Regions from separate parts of the Homo sapiens genome. Here region 2 is linked to region 1. Evidence: fine-mapped expression QTL. A gene starts in region 1. The other region holds a variant in brackets. All regions are shown on one strand. Distances are from middle to middle.

Region 1 (14,595 bases):
ATGTTCTTCCATTTGTTTGTGTCCTCTTTTATTTCGTTGAGCAGTGGTTTGTAGTTCTCCTTGAAGAGGTCCTTCACATTCCTTGTAGGTTAGATTCCTAGGTATTTTATTCTCTTTGAAGTAATTGTGAATGGGAGTTCACTCATGATTTGGCTCTCTGTTTGTCTGTTATTGGTGTATAGGAATGCTTGTGATTTTTGCACATTGATTTTGTATGCTGAGACTTTGCTGAAGTTGCTTATCAGCTTAAGGAGATTTTGGGCTGAGACAATGGGCTTTTCTAAATATACAATCATGTCATCTGCAAACCAGTACAATTTGACTTCCTCTTTTCCTAATTGAATACCTTTTATTTCTTTCTCCTGCCTGATTGCCCTGGCCAGAACTTCCAACACTATGTTAAATAGGAGTGGTGAGAGAGGGCATCCCTGTCTTGTGCCAGTTTTCAAAGGGAATGCTTCCAGTTTTTGCCCATTCAGTATGATATTGGCTGTGGGTTTGTCATAGATAGCTCTTATTATTTTGAGGTACGTCCCATCAATACCTAGTTTATTGAGAGTTTTTAGCATGAAGGGCTGTTGAATTTTGTCAAAGGCCTTTTCTGCATCTATTGAGATAATCATGTGGTTTTTGTCTTTGGTTCTGTTTCTATGATGGATTACGTTTATCGATTTGTGTATGTTGGACCAGCCTTGCATCCCAGGGATGAGGCCAACTTGATCATGGTGGATAAGCTTTTTGATGTGCTGCTGGATTTGGTGTGCCAGTATTTTATAGAGAATTTTTGCATCGATGTTCATCAGGGATATTGGTCTAAAATTCTCTTTTTTTGTTGTGTCTCTGCCAGGCTTTGGTATCAGGATGATGCTGGCCTCCTGAAATGAGTTAGGGAGGATTCTCTCTTTTTCTATTGATTGGAATAGTTCCAGGAGGAATGGTACCAGCTCCTCTTTGTACCTCTGGTAGAATGTGACTGTGAATCTGTCTGGTCCTGGACTTTTTTCGGTTGGTAGGCTATTAATTATTGCCTCAATTTTAGAGCCTGTTATTGGTCTATTCATGGATTCAACTTCTTTCTGGTTTAGTCTTGGGAGGGTGTATGTGTCCAGGAATTTATCCATTTCTTCTAGATTTTCTAGTTTATTTGCATAGAGGTGTTTATAGTATTCTCTGATGGTAGTTTGTATTTCTGTGGGCTCAGTGGTGATATCCCCTTTATCATTTTTTATTGAGTCTATTTGATTCTTCTCTCTTTTCTTCTTTATTAGTCTTGCTAGCTGTCTATCAATTTTGTTGATCTTTTCAAAAAACCAGCTCCTGGATTCATTGATTTTTTGAAGGGTTTTGTTGTGTCTCTATCTCCTTCAGTTCTGCTCTGATCTTAGTTATTTCTTGCCTTCTGCTAGCTTTTGAATGTGTTTGCTCTTGCTTCTCTAGTTCTTCTAATTGTGATGTTAGGGTGTCGGTTTTAGATCTTTCCTGCTTTCTCTTGTGGGCATTTAGTGCTATAAATTTCCCTCTACACATTGCTTTAAATGTGTCCCAGAGATTCCGGTATGTTGTGTCTTTGTTCTCCTTGGTTTCAAAGAACATCTTTATTTCTGCCTTCATTTCGTTGTGTACCCAGTAGTCATTCAGGAGCAGGTCGTTCAGTTTCCATGTAGTTGAGCGAGTTTCTTAATCCTGAGTTCTAGTTTGCCCTGTGGTCTGAGAGACAGTTTGTTATAATTTCTGTTCTTTTACATTTGCTAAAGAGTGCTTTACTTCCAACTATGTGGTCAATTTTGGAATAAGTGCGATGTGGTGCTGAGAAGAATGTATATTCTGTTTATTTGAGGCGGAGAGTTCTGTAGATGTCTATTAGTTCTGCTTGGTGCAGAGCTGAGTTCAATTCCTGGATATCCTTGTTAACTTTCTGTCTCATTGATCTGTCTAATGTTGACAGTGGGGTGTTAAAGTCTCCCATTATTATTGTGTGGGAGTCTAAGTCTCTTTGTAGGTCTCTAAGGGCTTGCTTTATGAATCTGGGTGCTCCTGTTTTTGGGTGCATATATATTTATGATAGTTAGCTCTTCTTGTTGAATTGATCGCTTTACCATTATGTAATGGCCTTCTTTGTCTCTTTTGATCTTTGTTGGTTTAAAGTCTGTTTTATCAGAGACTAGGATTGCAACCCTTGCTTTTTTCTGTTTTCCATTTGATTGGTAGATCTTCCTCCATCCCTTTATTTTGAGCCTATGTGTGTCTCTGCAGGTAAATGGATCTCCTGAACACAGCACAATGATGGGTCTTGACTCTTTATCCAATTTGCCAGTCTGTGTCTTTTAATTGGAGCATTTAGCCCATTTACATTTAAGGTTAATACTGTTATGTGTGAATTTGATCCTGTCATTATGATGTTAGCTGGTTATTTTGCTCATTAGTTGATGCAGTTTCTTCCTAGCATTAACGGTCTTTACAACTTGGCATGTTTTTGCAGTGGCTGGTCCTGGTTGTTCCTTTCCATGTTTACGGCTTCCTTCAGGAGCTCTTGTAAGGCAGGCCTGGTGGTGACAAAATCTTTCAGCATTTGTTTGTCTGTAAAGGATTTTATTTCTCCTTCACTTATGAAGCTTAGTTTGGCTGGATATGAAATTCAGGGTTGATATGAAATTCTTTTCTTTAAGAATGTTGAATATTGGCCCCCACTCTCTTCTGGCTTGTAGAGTTTCTGCCGAGAGATCCGCTGTTAGTCTGATGGGCTTCCCTTTGTGGGTAACCTGACCTTTCTCTCTGGCTGCCCTTAACATTTTTTCCTTCATTTCAACTTTGATGAATCTGAAAATTATGTGTCTTAGAGTTGCTCTTCTTGACGATTATCTTTGTGGTATTCTCTGTATTTCCTGAATTTGAATGTTGGCCTGCCTTGCTATGTTGGGGAAGTTCTGGATAATATCCTGAAGAGTGTTTTCCAACTTGGTTCCATTCTTCCCATCACTTTCAGGTACACCAGTCAGACATAGATTTGGTCTTTTCACATAGTCCCACATTTCTTGGAGGCTTCATTCATTTCTTTTTACTCTTTTTTCTCTAAACTTCTCTTCTGGCTTCATTTCATTCATTTGATCTTCAATCCCTGACACCCTTTCTTCCACTTGATCAAATTGGCTACTGAATCTTGTGCATGCATCATGTAGTTCTCGTGCCATGGTTTTCAGCTCCATCAGGTCGTTTAAGGTCTTCTCTACACTGTTTATTCTAGTTAGCCATTTGTCTAATCTTTTTTCAAGGTTTTTAGCTTCTTTGCGATGGGTTCGAACTCCTCCTTTAGCTCGGAGAAGTTTGTTATTACCAATCGCCTGAAGCCATCTTCTCTCAACTCATCAAAGTCATTCTCCATGCAGCTTTGTTCTGTTGCTGGTGAGGAGCTGCATTCCTTTTGAGGAGAAGAGGCACTCTGATTTTTAGAATTTTTGGCTTTTCTGCTCTGGTTTCTCCCCATCTTTGTGATTTTATCTACCATTGGTCTTTGATGATGGTGACACACAGATGGTGTTTTGGTTTGGATGTCCTTTCTGTTTGTTCGTTTTCCTTCTTACAGTCAGGACCCTCAGCTGCAGGTCTGCTGGAGGCTGCTGGAGGTGCACTCCAGTCCCTGTTTGCCTGGGTATCACCAGTGGAGACTGCAGAACAGCAAATATTGCAGTACGGCAAATGTTGCTGCCTGATCCTTCCTCTGGAAGCTTCATCTCAGAGGGACACCTGGCTGTATGAGGTGTCAGTCAGCTCCTACTGGGAGGTGTCTCCCAGTTAGGCTACTCGGGCTCAGGGACCCACTAGAGGAGGCAGTCTGTCTGTTCTCAGATCTCAAACTCCATGCTCAGAGAACCACTACTCTCTCCCACGCTGTCAGACAGGGATGTTTAAGTCTGCAGAAGTTTCTTCTGCATTTTGTTCAGCTATGCCCTGCCCTCAGAGGTGGAGTCGACAGAGGCAGGCAGGCCTCCTTGAGCTGCAGTGGGCTCCACCCAGTTTGAGCTTCCTGGCAGCTTTGTTTACCTGCTCAAGCCTCAGCAATGGTGGATGCCCCTCCCGTAGCCTCGCTGCCACCTTGCAGTTTGATCTCAGACTGATGTGCTAGCAGTGAGCAAGGCTCTGTGGGCATGGGACCCTCCGAGCCAGGCATGGGATATAATCTCCTGGTGTGCCATTTGCTAAGACCATTGGAAAAGTGCAGTATTAGGGTGGGAGTGTCCTGATTTTCCAGGTACCGTCTGTCATAGCTTCCCTTGGCTAGGAAAGGGAATTCCCCAATCCCTTGCGCTTCCTTGGTGAGGCAATGCCCCACCCTGCACCATGGGCTGTCCCCACTGTCTGCCAAGCCCCAGTGAGATGAACCCAGTACCTCAGTTGGAAATGCAGAAATCACCAATCTTCTGTGTCGCTCACGCTGGGAGCTATAGACTGGAGCTGTTCCTATTTGGCCATCTTGGAACCCAATCCACCTAAGGTCTTGCTCTAAGGTTCTATGCCTGAAAATCTTTGAAAGAGGTGAAGGACCTCTTCAAGGAGAAATACAAACCACTGCTCAATGAAATAAAAGAGGACACAAATAAATGGAAGATCATTCTATGCTTACGGATAGGAAGAATCAGTATTGTGAATATGGCCATACTGCCCAAGGTAATTTATAGATTCAATGCCATCCCCATCAAGCTACCAATGACTTTCTTCACAGAATTGGAAAAAACTACTTTAAAGTTCATATGGAACCAAAAAAGGTCCCACATTGCCAAGACAAACCTAAGTCAAAAGAACAAAGCTGGAGGCATCACGCTACCTGACTTCAAACTATACTCCAAGGCAACAGCAACCAAAACAACATGGTACTGGTACCAAAACAGAGATATAGACCAATGGAACAGAACAGAGCCCCCGGAAATAATACCACATATCTACAACCATCTGATCTTTGACAAATCTGACAAAAACGAGAAATGGGGAAAGGATTCCCTATTTAATAAATGGTGCTGGGAAAACTGGCTAGCCATATATAGAAAGCTGAAACTGGATCCCTTCCTTACACCTTATAAAAAATTAATTCAAGATGGATTAAAAACTTAAATGTTAGATCTAAAACCATAAAAACCCTAGAAGAAAACCTAGGCAATACCATTCAGGCAACAGGCATGGGAAGGACTTCATGACTAAAACACCAATAACAATGGCAACAAAAGCCAAAATTGACCAATGGGATCTAACTAAATTAAAGAGCTTCTGCACAGCAAAAGAAACTACCATCAGAGTGAACAGACAACCTACAGAATGGGAGAAAATTTTTACAATCTACCCATCTGACAAACGGCTAATATCCAGAATCTACAAAGAACTTACATAAATTTACAAGAAAAAATCAACCAACCCCATCAAAAAATGGGCAAAGGATATGAACAGACACTTCTCAAAAGAAAACATTTATGCAGGCAACAGACACATGAAAAAATGCTCATCATCACTGGCCATCAGAGAAATGCAAATCTAAACCACAATGAGATACCATCTCACACCAGTTAGAATGACAGTCATTAAAAAGTCAGGAAAAAACAGGTGCTGGAGAGGATGTGGAGAAATAGGAACACTTTTACACTGTTGGTGGGACTCTAAACTAGTTCAACCATTGTGGAAGACAGTGTGGCGATTCCTCGAGGGACTAGAACTAGAATTTGACCCAGCCATCTCATTACTGGGTATATACCCAAAGGATTATAAATCACGCTGCTATAAAGACACATGCACACATATGTTTATTGTGGCACTATTCACAATAGCAAAGACTCGTGAACCATCCCAAATGTCTATCAATGATAGACTGGATTAAGAATATATGGCACATATGCACCATGGAATAGTATGCAGCCATAAAAAAGGATGAGTTCATGTCCTTTGTAGGGACATGGATGAAGCTGGAAACCATCATTCTGAGCAAACTATTGCAAGGACAGAAAACCAAACACCGCATGTTCTCACTCATAGGTTGGAATTGAACAATGAGAATATTTGGACACAGGGAGGGGAACACCACACACCGGGGCCTGTCGTGGGGTGGGGGGAGGGGGGAGGGATAGCATTAGGAGATATACCTAATGTAAATGACAAGTTAACGGGTGCAGCACACCAACATGGCACATGTATACATATGTAACAAACCTGTACATTGTGAACTTAAAGTATAATAATAATAAAAAAAGGTAAAAAAAAAAAAGTAGACACATACTATAATCACCTTGAAAAAAAAAGAAAGTCTTTCAAAGAGATAAAAAATTCCATATACTCCACTTCCTACAATTCTGGCAGTTTCCAAATACTTTTACTTATGTGAAAATGCTATCATATCCAAGAGTGCCTTTAGAGCTAAGCTAACAGTAGGCTACTGATCTTTAGCACATTGCTTTTTCTGTTGTGTTATTCAGGGGGCTTTCTCACATTTATGTTTCCATTTTTCACATTTCACAACTTTCTTTGGAGCACAGATATTTCAGGAAGATTTTAGAGCCTTTGAATAGCATTATGGACTTTTTTGCATTAATTTTTACTTTTACAAAATTGTGCTAAATATTATTTCTGTTAATTAGTGAGTTTTGTTGGGGGCCCCTTAAATTGGAACCCCAGGCTATGCCTCATTTGCTTCACTCTGGTCCTGGCCCTGAGAGAGGAACACAAAAGGGATGGTTAGAAAAACAAGAACAAATGAGCCTCCCAGAATTTTCTCAAACAACAGGCCAGTTAATTAAGGAAAGTAGATATTACATAGCTAGGTATAATGAACATGCAGTCAGTGGATTGTCTCAGTAATTTATGGAGATAACCACCAACAAAAAGTGTATGTGGGTGGGGACAAAAGAGAGACAACAAAGTACTGCAGGCAGAAAGCTTCCTTTTGCTGATTTTGCCTCACAGAATTGAGAGTTTGTTCTTACACACAAGTTTAATGCCACCTTCCTCTGTCTGCCATGGACCAACAAGCAATATATGCTGAGTTAAACTTACCCACAGACTCAGGCCCAGAAAGTTCTTCACCTTCATCTCTTCCTCGGGGTAAGTGGCTTTAATTTTCCTTTCGGCATTTGTATGTCTTCCAGAATTAGATCTTCCTGTTACATTTATGGCTTTAAATCATTGCTTTAAAGATGAGCAGTAGTTTTATATTAATGTTTAACGGGTGTTGCATGGCTTGCCTGTAGATAATCACAACTTTGGGAAAAAAAATTTAAACCTCATACATTTATTTTTTTCAATCAAGTTAGCATGAAAAGCAAACATCACTTGTCTTACTGAGCCTTGGTTAAAAGACTCTGAACACTTTAGGCTACCCTGGGCACACTGCCTATTGGTTACCCCTGCTCTACAGGGATGGAAAGAAGGAAGAAAGAAAGAAAGAAAGAAAAGAAAGAAAGAAAGAAAGAAAGAAAGAAAGAAAGAAAGAAAGAAAGAAAGGAAGAAAGAAAGAAAGAAAGGAAAGAAAGAGAAAGAAAAGAAGAAAGAAAGAAAGGAGAGAAAGAAAAAGAAAGAGAGAGAAAGGAAAGGAAAGAAAGAAAAAGAGAAGGAGGAAGGAAGGAAGGATGGAAGGAAGGAAGGAAAAATATTTTACATGTATGAACTAAGGAATATTTAAGACACATTGCAAACTTGCTGTAATAACAACCTACGTTATTCCAAATTCCTCTACAAAATATCAATACTATGATTAAGTCCCAGTGCATTTTCATCCATAATATTCCTTTCAGAATACAACGTGTAGGCCAGTTGCAGTGGCTCATGCCTGTAATCCCAACACTTTGGTAGGCTAAGGTGATTTGCTTGAGTCCAGGAGTTTAAGGCCAGCCTGGGCAATGTGGCAAAACCTCATCTCTACAAACAATACAAAAAAATAGCCAAGTGTGGGGCACGTGCCTGTGGTCCTAGCTACTCGGGAGGCTGAGGTGAGAGGATTGCTTGAGCCCAAGAGATCAAGGCTGCAGTGAGCTGTAATTGTGCCACTGTACTCCAGCCTGGGTGACACAGCAAGACTATCTCAAAAAAAAAAAAAAAATATATATATATATATATATATATATACTTTTTATACATATATTTTATATATTTTATATATATATATATACTTTTTATACATATATTTTATATATTTTATATATATATATATAAAGTGTAGGCTTAATGAGTAACATACTTCACTCTCTCAAGAGAGGGGAACACTTTCTGGAAAAAAAATCATATTCAAGATCAAAGATTTGAATATCATTACTACCTGATAGTTTCTAGTTTGAAAAGTATCACAGCTTAGAAAGAGACAAGCCACAAAAATACTCGAGCATATCAGTAACGAACCTACTTACCATTTGTTGAAACTGGCACTTTCCTGTGTCTCTGAAGAGTTAGCATTCTGAGTGAAAGAAGCGGGGAACACCAATGTGAGGTAACACATGATGGATAGCATGGCCTGTGGATGGATGGGAAGAAACTAGAAACTGAGGCAGAAAATCAGCATGAAATTATTATGACACATTATTATTTTCTGATATCTAACTGAATTTACTATCATTGATAATATTACAATTGTTTACCAATCTGATATTCATTCCATGTCATGCCAAGCATTTGACTTGTGCTGTTTTAAGACTGTTTAAGTTTTAAACTATTGAATTCTCAAAGTTTTAAGTCAAGAAGAAAGTCTTAGAGCCGTCAATTAAGTTTCAGTATAATTTTCACATAAGAGTAGAGGAAATCAGAGGGTTCTAATAACTATAGGGAGGATTTGGTTGAGTAACATTTTTTTTTAAAGAAAAGAGTAAGTCTTTCTTTTCCTCTATTCATATCTAGCAAAAGGTGGAAAGTGGGCTTTTGTCAGAAAATGAATATAGAGGTAGTGAGACTCTTCCCAAATGTTGCTATGATCCCAAACCAATGGATGCAGAAATTTTTTCTACTTGGATTGTAATAATTATCCTATAAAATGTCATTCTGAGAGTAAACCTGAAGAAAAAATAAGAGTAGAATAAAGCCAGAGCAAAATATGTGACTATAGAACACTGGTCTGATATTGAATGACAGTAAAACCACTATTGGTCTCTGGCTAAACTGCTGAGGCTGTGGTCACTCTGTAGCAAGCACGGTGATTGTGTCTAAGGCAGTCAACAAAACCAGAAGGAGAGATGTGAGTGATAACCGATCTTGCTTATGGCCAAATGGCCAAGGGTTTGGTCTGTTAGAAAAGTGGATAAGGTGTTTGCAAAAATGCCCCTAGAGTTTATTCATTCATTAAAAAATAAGCTCCTACTCTGCACCAGGCATGCTGTGAATACAGCAGTGAACAAAATAGAGAAAATTATTTTCCTTCATAGAGTTTATAGTAAAATAGAGGCACACTTGTGGAAGACAGTATGGCGATTCCTTAAGGATCTAGAGCTAGAAATACCATTTGACCCAGTGATCCCACTACTGGGTATATACTCAAAGGATAATAAATCATGCTGCTATAAAGACACATGCACACGTATGTTTATTGCGGCAGCATTCACAATAGCAAAGACTTGGAACCAACCCAAATGTCCATCATTGATAGACTGGATTGAGAAAATGTGGCACATATACACCATGGAATACTGTGCAGCCATAAAAAAGGATGATTTCATGTCCTTTGTAGGGACATGGATGAGGCTGGAAACCATCATTCTGAGCAAACTATCACAAGGACAGAAAGCCAAACACCGCATATTCTCACTCATAGTGGGAATTGAACAATGAGAACACATGGACACAGGGCAGGGAACATCACACACCAGGGCCTGTTGTGGGGTGGGGGTAGGGAGAAGGGATAGCACTAGGAGAAATACCTAATGTAAATGACGAGTTAACGGGTGCAACAAACCAACATGGCACATGTATACATATGTAACAAACCTGCACATTGTGCCCATGTACCCTAGAACTTAAAGTATAATAAAAAATAAAAATTAAAAAAATGGAGGCACACCATCAATAAAATAAACAAATAACTAAGTCAGTATAAAAGATGAGACGGTGTTAATGTTATTGAGAAAGATTTGAATATAGGATTTAACTTTCGGGGAGGGTAGCATATCAAACAGAATAATCAAGGAAGGCCTCCCTGAGAAGATGACATTGAGTCAAAACCTGACAGAAGTGAGGGACAAAGACATAAGCCCCTGAGAGAGAAGCCTTCTAGGAAGGTGACCAACAAGTGCAAACACATCGAAATGAAAACACGCCTGTGGTATTGTAGGAGGCATCTGCGTGGAGAGTGAGCGTATGGAGGCCAGATGGGGTGAGGGCAAAATGTGAAACCACTATTGGACTCTGGCTAAACTGTTGAGGCTATGGTCACTCTGTAGCATGGTGATTGTGTCTAAGGCAGTCAACAAAACCAGAGAGATGTGAGTGATAACATCCAACAGAAGTGGGCGCCAGCTTAAATAGGGACATATGAGCCATTCTACAGACTCAGATTTGCCTGATGAAAAGCCATTGGAAGGTTTAGAATAATGAAATGAGATGATTTCACATACTTTTTAAACTCAAATGGAGAACAGCCATAGGTAGGTATTTCCAGATAGCTAACGTCCGCCGGACCCCTGTAGTGATTCATTGTAACTTCATTAATTCTAATGTCACGTGGTGCCACAGAAACACAGTACAGGAGTACATTCCTCCCAGACACAGTACACTCCACTCAACTCCTTACATTTTAGCATGAATGAATAACGATTTTTAAAAGTCACCAAGTTGCCTTTTACCTATAGTTAAAAAAAAAAAACAACTTTTAGAAAAAAAGAACTGCTGTTCATTGAACAGTTACCATGTGCCAGACACTGTGCCCAGCATTTAGAAGAATTGTTTCATATAATCCTCTCCAAAATATTATGACATAGATAATATTCCACATTTCACAGATGAGGAAATCTGTGGGTTATGAAGGTTGAACGTATTTTCCAAAATAACATGTTCACATTCAGATTTGCTAGATCGGAAAGACTGTTCTTAATCAATGTTAGCCTTTAGTAATGAAAATTACTAAATTCATGTTAGTAATAGAATTAGGCTGGGTGCGGTGGCTCACGTATGTAATCCCAGCACTTTGGGAGGCTGAGGCGGGTGGATCACCTGAGGTTGGGAGTTCGAGACCAGCCTGACCAACATGGAGAAACCCGTCTCTACTAAAAAAAAAAAAAAAAAATACAAAATTAGCCGGGCATGGTGGCGCATGCCTGTAATCCCAGCTACTCGGGAGGTTGAGGCAAGAGAATTGCTTGAACCTGGGAGGCGGAGGTTGCGGTGAGCTGAGATTGCACCATGAGCCTGGGCAACAAGAGTGAAACTCCGTCTCAAAAATAAATAAATAAATAAATAGAATTAAGTTAACACTTAAAATAGTGACTATACAGAGCTTTCTCCACTAGACAAACAAACTTAGAGTTTCAAGGAAGAAAACGGTGGGGAAGAGAAGAGACAGAAAGGTGAAATAACGTACATATATAAAACTGGAAGGAAAGCCATGCCAGTGCTGTCTTGGGCTTATTGACTGCATGTAGACATTCTTGTATCACACCAGCTCTCATTAGAAGTTCTAGGCCAATATTACCAAGCTTGGTTTCCTCACATTCAGATATATCCCTGGGGCCTTGGAGTCTCCTCTAGGTATCTACTCCTCCCTGCCCCCCTCCACTGATACAGCATGTCCTAAATAGTACCAGACGATAATCCATATGTTACAACCCTGACCCCAGTGTATTATGGTTCCTCCCATAATCTTTGATCACATCTAACGCTACTAAATTCTATCTCCTCAGGGCCGTTTTAGAGAGAGCTGATTCACTTATATCAGTGTGAGCATCCTAATGTGAGAGATTATCAGGTCTGCAAACTGGACTGCACAACTTAATCCTCAAGGATACTGTACCATTAAAAGTAGAAATGGCTTCATGGCCGTTCTGAAACATATAAAGAGACTAAAGGATAATATTATAGTATATCTGATGCTAAATTTTTTAACATGTAACTCATAGCAAGTAATCACTTACATGGAATAATATTAGAAAAAATAAAAAGGAATAGACAATACAAATAAATCAATAGCTTCAGATAAATTAGAAAGCCTTTATTCATAAAAGCTCCTAGCTCTAATAATAGAATTTATAAAGTAATTTATAATTATAATATATCTAATATGTTAAAAACCAAATGAGAGCAGAGGGAGACTTACAATTAAATCAGAGATAGGGGAGCTATTTAGGCACAACTTCTAGCAGTGTAACTGAGCAATATACTACCAGAATAATTCCTTATCAGAGTTGATTTAATTTTGGAAGCTATATCCCAGTGTTTCTCCAAAATATTTTTATAAATCTCTCTTTATTTTTTTTCTATTAATTCATGTTTTCAAAGATACAGAGCAAAATACATTGATAAAGTTGCGATTAATTTATAACATTTCATCAATATAATCATAACTTTTGAAGAACATGGGAGATTCATTATATAGTAATTGATGTGATTACAGAGAAAAGCAGAGATATCTGACACTTGGTTTAGACTATGCGATGTTGTAGACATAAGCGCATGTTATGTTATACTAGTGATAATATTGAAAAAGGTATGCAGTCACAAAACCTTATCCCTTGATGGCTTGGGATCCCAAGTTGGCTTAGACCCAACTTGGAGATGATTGTTCTAGACAACAGCAAAGCAGAGGATTCCATGTCCAAGAATAGAATTTCTGTATACCACCAGCACCTAACATGGTACTTGGCACAAAATAGAGAGAGCCTCAAAAAATATCTTGACTAAATGAAGGTCTTCCTTCTTGGACAAAATGCTTTGACTTACTTCATACATTAAGACATGCACTTAATTTTTGTATAGCACTTGGCAATTTTCAAAACATCTTTCTATCTATCTCATTTGGTTCTTACACCAATCCTTTGTATACACACATGCATAAGCGTTCATATTTTATCAATGAGCAAACTCTGTTGGATCTGAGAACCCATCTTGCAGGACTCTACTTTTAGAATGATGGATAGAGGTTGTTCCCTGCCCCCATCCCCCAAGCTGAATCTAATTGTCCCTATGTTATCCCAAGTACATTTTTGTGCCAGATGTACTCCACTGAGTTAACCAAGGTTTTTTGTTTCGTTTGTTTGTTTGTTTTTGTGTTTTTCTTTTTAACTTTTCAGATGTCTGTCAGGGTTCACCTTGGCATCAATTTGCCCTGAAACTTAGCTGTGCTGGGATTATTCTCCTTGTCTTGGTTGTTACTGGGTTGAGTGTTTCAGGTAAGTGGGGCACCATCATCTGTTTCATAATACTTACTCTACTTCCATTACGTATCTTAGAGCATCTCTGTAGGGGTGGGTTGCCCCTACACACCTGTGGGTGTTTCTCGTAAGGTGGGACGAGAGATTTGGAAAAGAAAAAGACACAGAGACAAAGTATAGAGAAAGAAATAAGGGGACCCGGGGAACCAGCGTTCAGCATATGGAGGATCCCGCCAGCCTCTGAGTTCCCTTAGTATTTATTGATCATTTGTGGGTGTTTCTCGAGAGGGGGATGTGTCAGGGTCACAAGACAATTGTGGGGAGAGGGTCAGCAGACAAACACGTGAACAAAGGTCTTTGCATCATAGACAATGTAAAGGATTAAGTGCTGTGCTTTTAGATATGCATACACATAAACATCTCAATGCTTTACAAAGCAGTATTGCTGCCCGCAGGTCCTACCTCCAGCCCTAAGGCAGTTTTTCCCTATCTCAGTAGATGGAGCATACAATCGGGTTTTATACCGAGACATTCCATTGCCCAGGGACAGGCAGGAGACAGATGCCTTCCTCTTGTCTCAACTGAAAGAGGCATTCCTTCCTCTTTTACTAATCCTCCTCAGCACAGAACCTTTACGGGTGTCGGGCTGGGGGACGGTCAGGTCTTTCCCTTCCCACGAGGCCATATTTCAGACTATCACATGGGGAGAAACCTTGGACAATACCTGGCTTTCCTAGGCAGAGGTCCCTGCGGCCTTCCGCAGTTTTTGTGTCCCTGGGTACTTCAGATTAGGGAGTGGTGATGACTCTTAAGGAGCATGCTGCCTTCAAGCATCTGTTTAACAAAGCACATCTTGCACCGCCCTTAATCCATTCAACTCTTGAGTTGACACAGCACATGTTTCAGAGAGCAAGGGGTTGGGGGTAAGGTTATAGATTAACAGAATCTCAAGGCAGAAGAATTTTTCTTAGTACATAACAAAAAGGAGTCTCCTATGTCTACTTCTTTCTACACAGACACAGTAACAATCTGATCTCTCTTGCTTTTCCCCACAATCTCAACATAATTTGGCTACCCCAATCTTAGTGTAAAATCAATGAATAAAAAGTCATGAAACAATGTTTCTAACAGTCAGTCCATATCCACTTTGGATACCAGCCTTTCATATTTGTCTTCCTAACTGCCCTGAGAGTCATCACGGGGTATTATATATGTGGCCCAAGAACTTTTGAAAAAAATCACAATTGATGATAACAAAGAAAAGAAAAATTTCCAGTTATTTATG
Region 2 (13,105 bases), 52 kb before region 1:
GTATAAAAGCAATATATTATCAGATTTTGCTTCATTGGAATAGCTGACTGATAAAAAGTTACAAGAAAGAACAAAAGTTTATAAAAATTATTTATTCTCAATGACCTGTATCCCACTTTTCTTGGGTTTTTGTGTTTGTGACAGCATGATGGATGGTAATGATATTGAATAAGTGAGGGATATAAAAGGCAGTGTATTATGATGTAAAAGAACACAGCTGGCAGGGTGTGGTGGCTCACACCTATAATCCCAGCACTTTGGGAGGCCGAGGCAGGTGGATCACCTCAGGTCCGGAGTTGGAGACCAGCCTGGCCAACATGGCAAAACCTTGTCTCTACTAAAAATACAAAAACTAGCTGGGCGTGGTGGTGCGCACCTGTAATCCCAACTACTTGGGAGGCTGAGGCTGGAGAATCACTTGAACCCAGGAGGCGGAGGTTGCAGTGAGCCGAGATTGTGCCACTGCACTCCTGCCTGGGCAACAGTGAGAGTCCATCTCAAAAAATAAAAATAAAAAAAATAAAAAAAGAACACAGCCTTTGGGGCAAAACAAGCTCAATTCATATATGACTTTTGTAGCCTGATAGTTAATTTTAAATGTATGTGGAAAGCAGAATAATGACCCCCTAAAGACATTAATAAGCTAATTCCCAAAACCTTGAGGTAAGGATGTTATTTTACATGACAAAAGACATTTTGCACATATGGTTAAGGGTCTAAAGACAGAGGGATTATTTTGGATAATCCAGGTGGGCCTAATCTAATCACATGGGTCTTTATTAGGGGAAGGCAGGAATGTCACTGTCAGAGAGAGATTTGAAGGTGCTGTGCTGCTGGCTTTAAAGCTGTAGCAAGGGACCATAAGCTAAGGAATGCAGGTGGCCTCTGGAAGCTGAAAAAGGCAAGGAAACGGCTTCTTCCCTAGAGCCTCCAAAAGAAATGCAGCCCTATCAGTGGCACCCTGACTTTAGCCATTTTGAACCTCTCATTTCTAGACAGTAAAATAATAATTTGTGTTGTTTTTAATCCACTTGTCTTAGTTCATGTGCCTGTAACAAAATACCATAAAATGGGTAACTTATAAACAACAGAAATTTATTTCTCACAGTTCAGGAGGCTGGAAGTCCAAGATCAGAGTGCTGGCAGATTTGGTGCCTGGTAAGGGCCCACTTTCTGGTTCATTGATGGTAACTTCTAGATGTGTCCTCACATAGTAGAAGGAACAAGGCAGCTTTGGTGGGCCCCTTTTGTAAGGGCACTAATCCCATTCATCGGTATTCTACCCTCATGACTTAATGACCTCACAAAGGTTTCATCTCCTAATGCCATCACCTTGGGAGTCAGGATTTCAACATGTGAATTTGGGAGTGGGAGATACAAATATTGAGATCATAGCACCCCTAGTTTATGGTAATTTATTATTACACAATAATTATAGCATATTGATTAAACTGTCTCAGCCTCAAGATCTATATGAATAAAAGGAGTATAATAGCACCTTCCTTGACTGGTTTGTTCTGAGAAATGAAAACTTCATCAGTTAATATACCTATTAAGTTACTAGTAATTCATACCTGCTTTAGGAAATATTACGAACTTCAACATCTAAAATCTTCCTGTCGATGCTTTGATCTGGAGAATATCTACAACGTTTTTCTTCAGGGCTCAGATAATGTCATTTCCCTCAAGTGTGGAACGTTGGCCAGAAACTCTTCTGATTGGTCAGTGCCTGCGTTTAAATATTCTGAATATCGACGTTTCCTCAAGACTAGGAGAAAGGGTGTGCTTCATCCTAGTGCATCATGAAAATAATCTGAGAGAAATGGATGGATGAAGCCCATTAGGCAGGGCAACTACTGTTAAACAGCTTAGCAGAGAAAGAAGAGAAAATTACCCTCCTGAAGAAGCAAATTCACTGAGCCCAAAGAGGCCATGGTGAATTGATCATGGGCAAAAATCATTCCATTTGCAGGGCCAGATACGTGAATGTGCAATCTGTGTGGTAGCACAGTTTATCATGCTTAAAGGGCCCCACAGGCGGCTTAATGCTTTATCAATGTCTCAAAATTATTAATAATTTTTTAACAAGATGTTTTACATTTGTATTCTGCTCTAGATCCTGCAAATTATGTTACAGTCTCTGACTCTGTGTGCGTGACAAGGGTGAATTATTTTTTGCTTCATTTCATGTAGCTTTTATTTTATAATTAAACTTTTTATTTTGAGCTAGTTGTAGATTCACATGCAGTTCTAAGAAATACTAAAGAAAGATCCCACATCTTCTTTACTCAGTTTCTCCCAATGGTAACATCTAAAAAACTACACTATAATATCACGACTAAGATAATGCCATTGATACAATGAGGAAACGAAACTCTTCCATCACGACGGAGAGCCACACCACCCTTTCTCCATACTGCCCCTTCTTCTCCACTCACCCATCCATAACCCTCATTCTCTATCTATACCATTTTGTCATTTCAATAATGTTACGTAAATTAAATCACACAGAATGCGATCTTCAGTAATTGGCTTTTCTTACTTAGCCTAAGTACTTTGAGATTCAAGGAAGTTGTTATATGTATCAATAGCCCATTCCTTTTTATTGCTGAGTAGTAATCCACTGTATGCCTATAACAGAATTTACTTAATTTTTCACCCATTGTGAGACATACAGTTGTTTACAAGTTTTGACTATTATGAATAAAGCTGTTATGCACATTTTATATACAGGCTTTTGTGTAAATATAAGTTGTCATTTGTGCGAGAGAAATGTCTACAAATGTAGTAACTAGACTGTATGATAGTTTAACATTAAAAGAAACTGTCAGAGTCACAGATGGCAGAATAGAAGGCCCTAAACTCTCCTTCCCCACCATCAATTCAACAGCAACACAGAGGCAAATTCCCATCATTGGAAATCCAGAAACTGACTGAGCCACTCCTGTACCCTAGGTGAGTGTGAAACTATCCACATCAAAACTGATAGGAAAAAACTTGCACACACTGTGATCATAACCCCCAACCCTAATACAATGCCATATGATCGGGAAGGAACTCCCATCTCTTAGTCTATCCCTGAGGAGTGAAGGGTTTGGACCACCTATCTGGTATCACAACTTCTCTAGATACTACCAGATAGACTGGTTTCTAATTTCCCTGTTTTGGTGAGCTGACAGGGCCCAGCATCTGCTAAACCTCTGGGGCTACACAAACCAAAACAGCAGTTGCTTTTAAAATAATAATTGTTATAGCCCTGTTACTTCAAATATTTTCAGAGCGGTTTTTAATAAGCATGTGGGCACTTCCCCCTGCTCCCCACTTTGGCTCAGTGCAGTGATAAAGCCTGGCTTCCAGCTTCTCTCTGAAAAGCAAAGGAGACAGACCAAATAACTAGCACCCCAGCTTTTCTGGCTGCTACCTGAGGAACTGGATTTTATCTCATGTATCTGAGAGCACTGGAAGGGCCTGGCATACTCTAGATGCCTGAGGACCATTAAGAACAAACATTGTGGTTTCAACTACCAGGAAGGTTTAAGTGGCACCCAGAACCTCTGTCTGGACTGATTGGTAAAGGTGTTGTCCTATCTGAGACCTGTCTGTGAAGACTGGAAAGGAAGCTGTTTTATCTGGTGCACAGACACCAATGCAGACAGTCAAGGAAAATAAAGAAATGGAAAATATGTTCTAAATGTTACCCACACAACAGGTGGGTTCAGTCACTTGGCAGGTATCAACCCAATGACCACCGACAAGGTGGATTTAGCAAGGAGATTTTGTTCTTACAGAAAGTAAAGAGAACACTGGACAAAGCTCCCAAAGTAGTACCTCGCCAAGCTGGGAGGTGGGTCAGGTTTTATAAGCATAGGGTAGTGAGGAATAATCTGATTGGATCTTGCAATGAGGTGATGCTGGGAGGCAAGATCTGACTGGATCCTGCCATGAAGTGATGCCTGAGTTCTATCCAGTTGGATCCTGGATCCTGCCATCCTGTGTCCACCTCTTAATTCGGTCCCTGTACCTCAGTCTGAATGATTAGGTTTCCCTTGTGGTTGCACACTTGTTTCACCTGTCCATGCTCAGGTTACATGACCTGAGTGAGGGTCCATGACAACTGAAGAACAACTCACAGCTTTGTTACCATAAAAGTTGAACCATGCATGTTTATTGCTGCACTATTCACAATAGCCAAGACATGGAATCAATGTAGATGCCTATCAACAGTGTTCTGGATAAAGAAAATGTGGTACATATACACCATGGAATACTACACAGTCATAAAAAAGAACAAAGTCATGTCCTTTGCAACAAAAGATGCAGCTGGAAGCCATCATCCTAAGTAAATTAATGCAGACACAGAAAAACAAATACCACATACTCTCACGTATAAGTGGGAGCTAAATGCTGGAAACATGTGGACATAAAGATAGGAAAAATAG[G/A]CTTCGAATTAAGAGAGCAGGGAGAGAGGGAAGATAAGGCAAGTTCTGAAAAACTACCTATTGGATATTATGCTCACTACCTGAGTGATGGGATCATTGGTATTGTAAGATCAGCGTCATGCAATACACCCATGTTAACAAACCTGCACACGTACTTCCTAAATCTAAAATAAAATTTGAAATATAAAGAAAACAAAAAACAAACCCAAACATCTTGCTGGTAATACAGAAAATATGGCTCATGGTAGTGGAAGCCCCCATAAAGCATGTGTGATTCAAAAAAATAAGAATCAAAGCTGAAAAATGAAACATACAGACCAACCATATCTATAGGAAGCACTCTGTAAATGAGGTAGCATGGAAAAAAAAGATTATGTTGAATAAAAAAAAAAAAAGTTGAACCAGATTTGTTAGGAAAGCAGGAGCATAGGAAAGCCAGAGTGACACTATTTTAAAATCAACTCCATCTAAAAACTAGCAAGGCACTTCCTTGACAGTTATGACCTACGATTATAAGATGTTTACAGCTAAGGAAGCGATTTAGTAATGCTGCAAGGACAAACTCCTACGACAGCAGAATGTCCAGATGTCCCAATATCACATAACAATACATGCTTTTAAGGTAGCTAAAGTCATACTTTGATGTACTTATGCACTAAGATGACAAGGATAAGTTTCTTTATATCAACAAAATACTAAATTTTGTCACACTGACAGCCTACCCACATGTAGACATAGCTTAGGTTTTACATAGATTAAACCCCTATAAAAGAAGAGTTTAAAACAAAGACAGCACATTCCTCCTCCTGCTTTTGGAGGATGCCCTACTCTGTAACTGAGTAGCTTTCAATAAACTGTCTATTCTCTCTACACTCTGTGACTCTCCTTGAATTCCTTCCTGCAGGAGATCCAAGAACCCTCTTTCATGGTCTGGTTCAAGAGCCCCTTTCTGACAACAGATCAGTCTGGAGCAGTTACAAATCCCCTCCTTTTTATGTCCATTCCTCAATCTTGAGGGAAAGGGATGATGACCATTCTAACTACTTCTTGCTGATTAGGGACATAAACGTTGGTTAGAGTAATAAAGTTGTTTAGCGCTTTACTGTAGGAGTTCCCTGGTATTAGGGCTGCATTTCAGATGGAGTTGTTTCCATCCAGTTCTAGAGAAAGGTACAGAGAGTTAACAACTTAACATTGTTTGCTCCAGAGAACAAAGGGAATGCTCAGATTTTATAGCAAGTATTCATACCCAGGCTCCCAATCAAGTCTTCTACACAAATAAATGGTTAAAATTTGAAACTCGCTTAGTTTTCATTAGTCAATACAGCTGATCCCTGATTAGCTGACACAAGTGAGCTTTAATTGATTGATTTAGGTGAGTCTTGAAAGTCCCAAAGTTAAGGAGTGTGGGTTTTCCAGGAACTCAGAGCATTTGTATGAAATCTAGTTAGCAAATGGCTGCTTTGTGCTATTTAAATTTAGGTCCAGTTAGTCACTCAGAATCCATCTTGAAGGACTGGCTCAAACATGCTGGCAAACAGCATTGCATTCCATCCAACAGAGAAGTGGTTGGCTACCTGCTCTGGGCCCATCGGATCCCTTGCAGGAATCCTAGTGGCAGTGCAGTGGCCAATAGAGAAACTAGAGCCATTTACTTAGGAGAGGCATTCAGGAAAGTACTGGTTAAATGTGAACCAAAGTCTCTTGGGTTAAGTTGGTTCCTATTTCCAGCTGGAGTGAGTTTAAAGTCTCAAAGATTGCATGGGCAGGATCCTGGTGGGAATCTCTTGTAGACATCTGTTAAAAACAAGTTAGAACAATTCTAAAGGGGAGTCAAATGCTTAGCCAAAATATGAGGGTTATCATTAAGATGTGCAGGGTAGAATGCAGAAGAAATCCTATACCAAGGAGAAACCAGCTGAAAATATCTGGACATTGGAAACTTTATCCACTAAGTCCAGCATGGAGGCTTTCCGAAGATGTCTCTCTCAGAGATTTTGCCAACTCCAAGCCCGCTTAAATATGACTGGAAGTATTTACCCAGGTACAGCAGCAATGTTAGAAGTCACTGAGCAGGCCAGGTGCAGTGGCTCATGCCTGTAATCTCAACACTTTGGGAGGCCGAGGCAGGTGGATCACCTGAGGTCAGGAGTTCGAGGCCAGAGGCCAGTCTGGCCCACACGGCAAAACCCAATCTCTACTAAAAATACAAAAATTAGCCAGGTGTGGTGGCACATGCCTGTAACCCCAGCTAATTGAGGGGCTGAGGCATGAGAATCACTTGAACTCGGGAGATGGGAGGTTGTAGCGAGCTGAGATCATGCCACTGCACTCCACTCTGGGTGACAGAGTGAGACTCCATTTAAAAAAAAAAAAAAAGTCACTGACCAATAAGATCTCATTACTGACCATAGTATCTTATGGATCTAGTTTGTTCCCAATTCTGGTATCTAATGTCCCTAGCTGGTCAGATTTTTAAGAAGGGGAAGTCACCTGAATGTCCCTGGAGCATCCCTAGTCAGGATCGAGGCAAGAGGGTTGGGGGACTCCATCAGGACTGTTATAACCTAATATTGGAGGAACTTAGGAGAATTCAGGATCTAGTTCAGTCCACAGGCAGATAACAAGGACTTGAAGACAATGTACAGGGTTAAAATCTAAAAACAGGTGTAACTTTGCTTTCCTTAGAAGCATAATTTTTCTCTCCCGTTGATGATGTAGGAGATCTTAGATTTTAGAACCTCTTGAGGCTAGGAAACCAAACCAAAGCAGCCTTTGGATTTTGCTTATAATAAGGTTCTTGAACCTGCCAGAAAGTGACAATTTTTACTCATTCCCTGTAAAGCTGGGAACTCATGAAGCAAGGCATTTTACGCACTTTTTTTTTTTTTCTGAGACACAGTGTCATGCTGTCGCCCAGGCTGGAGTGCAGTGGTGGGATTTCCACTCACTGCAACCTCCACCTCCTGGGTTCAAGCAATTCTCATGCCTCAGCCTCTCGAGTAGCTGGGACTACAGGCGTGTGCCACGATGCCTGGCTAATTTTGTGTTTTTAGAAGAGATGAGGTTTCACCATTTTGACCAGGCTGATCTCAAACTCCTGGCCTCAAGTGATCCACCCACCTCAGCCTGCCAACATGCTGGGATTACAGGTGTGATCCACCACCCCTGGCCTCTATGCACATTCTGAAATATGACATTTCAAGCCAAACCTTAGCAATATAAATAATGTTTCCAACTGGATCCTGCTTATAAAGAGAGAGTGGATTTTTACTGAAGTTGTATAAATAAAACTAAAAATATCCACAAATAGTTTCTGAATTTTGAAGGAATCAAGTAGAGAGAAAAAGCAAATGCTTCCATATTTGTTCACAAAGGATTATTTATCAAATTATTGCAAACGGTAGATAGCTTGTGACAGAAAATTTCCTTGGCTCTGGAAAATAAAACATTTACGTCATAAAAACATCCTTATAAATTAATTTTACGTAATTAATTTTGTTTTGCTTGATCTTAATTAGCAATTTTGGACTATAGCTGATTGCGAACGCTTCCAAAGAAGAAATTAAAATAATAACTGTGAATGACAAAAACCCAGAACAGCCATAGGTAAAGATCTGATTAACGTTACCAATTAACCAGGAAATTTAAGTGCTTCTGTGGCATACAATCATCCAACATAAAAATTGCAATTATTACAGGTATCTCAGCATGTCAGTATCTTAGGAATCTCATAAAATTTCACATTTCTATAAATGATGAACTTACACAAACACAGCTTAAAGAAAGGTAAAACACCATTTCTTATTTGACAATGCTTCTAGCAGTATTTGCCAAATAAGCCTAATCATTTAATAACTCTACAAGAAAGACAAGCCTTTGGAGGAGCATATCTAGGGGGTCCACCTGGAAAAATCCCAGTCATTTTTAGGCCAAAAGGCTTAATTTAGGATTTGGATTCTAGAGAAACCTGCCAAAGATGTCAAAAAGCTTAAAATACTTCCTTCAACAGATAATAAGTCACTGCTAAGAATACTACTCATTTAATCAGAGTGACAACCTAAAGACCTCAGAAAGTTACATGGATGGAAAAACTTTTACCCTTTTAAGGCTCAGTTTCCCTAAGCAGTCAAAGCCTAATAAAGACACCATGAAGCACTGGGAATTATCTTGGTAAAACACAGAATCTTTGTTTTCTAGGCCAGTGACCTTGATCAGGGGAATACATTTAATAACAACATAGGAAATCCTAGTAACAAAACAATTTTGACACATTAAGAAAAAACAACAATATAGAATCAAGTTTTGCTGAAGTAAAATGTTGCCTTTCTAGACCTTTAAGATAAATCCCAAACCAGGACTAGACAGTTCTCAGGAAGGAATGTGGCAGAAATAGGAATTAGTTTGTAATTCAGAATGGCTGTTAAGGAAACATTGCAGAATTAAAAATCAAAGCCTCTTGTAATCTTACTAAGAACAAATCAATATTTTAAGAGACTCATATTGTTTTAATGTAGGAGACCAAAATTTAAGTTTTGTATCAGTGCATCTTAACATCAAAGTTCCATTTTTTCCAACTTTTATTTTAGATGTAGGGGATACATGTGCAGGTCTGTTACTTGCAGTTTTTCCAGGGGCATGGTGGAAGCTGCTGCTGATTCCACCATTCTGGAGTCTGGAGGATGGTGGCCCTCTTCTCACAGCTCTACTAGGTAGTATCCCAGTGGGGACATAACTGGCAACTGTAGACATAATTGTTTGGCTTGCTACAAATCCATTTTCTGTTCATGTAGATTCTGCCACTGTTGACTCCATTGTCATTCAGGAAGGCACATTCTCCACTTCCTCTGATAGCAAGCCTAAATCCAAACACAAAAATATTAAATATTTGTAAGTTAGACACCTGCATTTGTTCCTCCCCATCATCTTCTGCAACCCCTCCATATTTCAATGTGAATAAGAGAAAAGCAAAAGTCTGTCATTAATATTGCTTCATAGTAATATAAACCATTTCTGTATTTAGTGTCCTTTATGTCCTCAAGGTCCTTGCTTGAAAATCACAAGCTTATCATTCATCCATACCAAGCCCAGCTATGTTGATAGGTATTTAACTGATGCTTGCTGCTGTACCCAAATGAACTGCTGCCATTGGTGGTCTTCAGTCAAGATGATTTCCAGCCTCCTCCCAAATTGTTTTGTAAATGTGTGAAAACTAAAAAAAAAAAAAAAACTAGTAAATTCCTGAAAGGGCTTAGCTTTGATTAATGGATATGACTGGGTTCCTACATTTTATCTGCTGCAATGTAATGATTATATTCAAAATACCCCTTTGAAATGTTCACAGTCCAAGGAACTGTTACTAGTTTCCTTCTGGTGATAAAGCTTTAGGAGGGAGAGATTCCCATGAGTTCCCTGGATGCTTTCCTATTGTAAATGGATGCAACACCTGCAAGAGTGGGCTTAACAGCCTTGTGGATATCAGCTCCTCAGTGGCTTCCTATGATTGTAGAACCTTTGTTGCACATCAGCTATAAGTAGGGATTTCAGCAGTTTTAAATCAGTGGATGAAAGTGTAAAATTGTGAGAAATGTCACTGTCACATTAAAGACTTCAACTGAAATCACAGGTAAAGCTTTCCCAAAGACACAGCTAACCAACTGAAGAGCATAAAAAGGGTTTAGATTTCTTACCTCATATTGCAGTAAGTTTTCCATGATACTACATTTCTTATCTCATAAACACAACTCACACACATAACCATACATAAACACAGCAAAAGATGAGAAGTCTCAAAACATACATGTTATTATATTCCATGTTGTCTGTCCATTTCCAAATGCGATGGGATGATTCTCTTCTAAGGCCAATCCAATGGTCAGAAGGGCCTTTGTATCTTTTCAGGAAATTCTATAATAAAACAGAAACTAACACCATGAGCCCCTTTCTTTCATATTACTCTGGAGTCTCTCTTCCCTATCCCTTCTCTTTTTCACTGGCAGCGTGGTATAATTAAGCAGCATAAATTCTGGAGTGAGACTAATTCCCAGTTCTCAGTTTAAGTCATTTAACGTCTCTGATCCTAAATTACTTTATTTAAAGTGAGCATAAATCCCAGTTTCATTGGGAAATTCTCAGTTTATGCTTGTCATTCCACCAATGTATTAATGATCACTTTTAATGCCCTATATGTCTTAATCTAGATGACAAATTATATAATTACCTTACTTCTTAATAGAATGAGAACAATACATCTCATCTTACCAGCTCACCATGAGCATTACATGGGGAAATATATCTAAAATGTCTCACAGGGTTCCAGGCAGAGAACACACCCTCAACAAATGTTAGACATGAAAACACATCTCATGCCCCTGGAATGGGATCCTTCTTAGTATTTCAGCTTTAACCCTATGTAGCCGACCTGCCTCAGGGGGCTAAGTATTTAACAGAAAACATGATCCAAAAATATCTCTTACCAGTTCCTCCATAGTTGCAAACTGAGCAAGGCTGGCTTCTAATGAGACACAGAACGTTTGACTCAATGTCTAATTTCTTATGCCTTCAGAAAAATAAAAACATTTACTCCTAAATCTAATTCAGCTTTTTGGGCAAGCAGCGTATTTAGATGACTCTACCACTGGCTTTTCCTTTCTTGCTAAAAGTGAGACAATCACAATGAAACATAATAAAGAAATTTTCTCACCCATTTTATCTATTTTTCTGCTTACCTTCCTGAGGTCAATTTTGAAGTGTACATATCTGATTGTTGTTTTCCTAACTCATCACAAAGTGCCTTATCCTAAGCACAACAATCGTCAGTCCGGTGGTTTCCAGCTGGGTATCTGCACCCTTGACTTTCTGAAATTTACACTGACACTAACAGTTTCAAGGAAATCAATTTCTATAGCATCGACTTCCATAGTACTGTACTTTCACAGGGTCATACGGATGATTTTTCCATATCCTCCCTCATATTAGCCCTTCTTTCTCTTGACAAAGCAATGCTGAGGACCTATTACCTCTATACAAGAGATGATTTTTTTATGTATACAGTTCTCTGTACTTTCGTGCATTCTCAATCTGCTTAAGTAGAAGATACCAGCTCTTAAGGCCAGGTGATTTGCCTGAAAACATTTCAAGTAGAGATCTTACTTTATTTTTAATAAAAAATGACAATTCTGAGAGGAACTTGTCAGGAAATAGTTCCGTAAGCGGAATTCCTATACCCATAGCCTTTCTCATATCAATGGACGGCAAATGCATTCTTGCCAAGGCTCAAAAGAAGACAGGCTTACCTTTGACATTCCTCTGAGACGTTTTATCCAATTTGACATAAAATACTGTTGGCTCAGCTTTCAAAATATCCAGAGTCTGACCACCCTCCCCTACCTAGTCTCAATATAGCAATTAAATGATTATTCTACAATGAAAGTCACATCAAGACATTCCTCTCGTACAACTTCCCTCATCTAGTCTCCCTATTGCACTGAAGGTCAAAGCCAAAGTCTTTAACTGACCCTCAAGGTTCCTCCGTTCCTGATTCCCCATGGTATCACTCTTCTTCTCCATCTTCACTTTGCTTCACCTACAGCAGCCTCCTTGCTCTTCCTCAAATAAGCCAGGAAGAGTCCTCCTTCAGGCTTTGGTCTACTTGTTCTCTGCCTGGAATAGGTTCCTTCACATGGTTCCTCCATCTCTTTCAAAAGGTTGCTGAAATGTCACCTTCCTAAGAAGGCTTAGTTTTGTCAACCTATTGCAACCTGTTATACCTCCACCCTTATTTATTTTTACTTGTGTTTTTCTGCTGGAATATAAGTTCCAAAGGGCAGGAATTCTTTTGTGTGTATTTTGTTTGCTGATGTAATTCAAGCATTTCACACAGTGACAGGCACATAATGGAGCTTAATAAATATTTATTGACAACAAAAACATATGGAGAATATTGTACAGTTTGGAGAACAAGTAACTTACCTGACAAAACAATAGAAAGTGCAATCACACTTGTAGTCAGGACTGCAATGATGAACAAGCAACAATAAACCTTGACAGGAGTTACTGGAGATATAAGTGCTAGACATTGTCTTTGCAGAGTTTTATCTGTAAAATAGAAACATCAGAATCTCAATCTCAGGAATATCGTAGGGAGAAAAAATTTATCATAGAATCAACACTAAGATCAGATGTACTTCAATTCTCCTACTGCCAACTCCTTTCACAAAAGGGCTTGGTTCATAAATGAGAATAATGGCCCAAAGAGGGCTAGAGATAAAAATCGAATTCTCCCCACCCCCAGGGAATCTTCCAGTTACTGGAAAAAGAGTAGAAATTGGGATGAAAAAGAAACATACACAATCCAGATTTAGCCCCATAGTAAAGCAGCTGGTTAGAAGCAACAAGGGAAGCAGAAAATAAATCAATGTAATTCACCATATTGACAGAATGAGACAAGGGACAACATATGAGCATCTGAATAAATGCAGCAAGAGGATGTGAAAAGCTTAATATTCATCCACGATAGTAAGACTCAACAAATTAGAAATTGAAGAACTTTCTTCAACCTGATAAAGGGCATCTACAGAAAAACTACAACTAGCAACAACCTTAACGATGAAAGAATAAATGCTTTCCCCCAGTGACATAGAACAAGGCAAGGATGTCTGATCTCT

Evidence for each region. PIP is the estimated chance that this variant, and not a neighbour inherited with it, causes the effect. A credible set is the group of variants that fine-mapping cannot tell apart.
Region 2: its variant is the best candidate, but not a certain one, in a credible set for the expression of KLRB1 in whole blood (INTERVAL, PIP 0.76).

Annotation. Positions count from the first base shown.
Region 1 is chr12:9,600,234-9,614,828 of GRCh38, reverse strand. It overlaps KLRB1 (killer cell lectin like receptor B1), which reads left to right and starts at 6,913. Exons shown (of 6, transcript NM_002258.3): 1 at 6,913-7,074; 2 at 13,230-13,328. The coding sequence starts at 6,990.
Region 2 is chr12:9,653,114-9,666,218 of GRCh38, reverse strand. It overlaps the pseudogene LOC374443. Among named protein-coding and RNA genes, the nearest start is that of CLEC2D, 10 kb to the left of the region's middle. The variant G/A (reference allele first, on the strand shown) is at 4,440.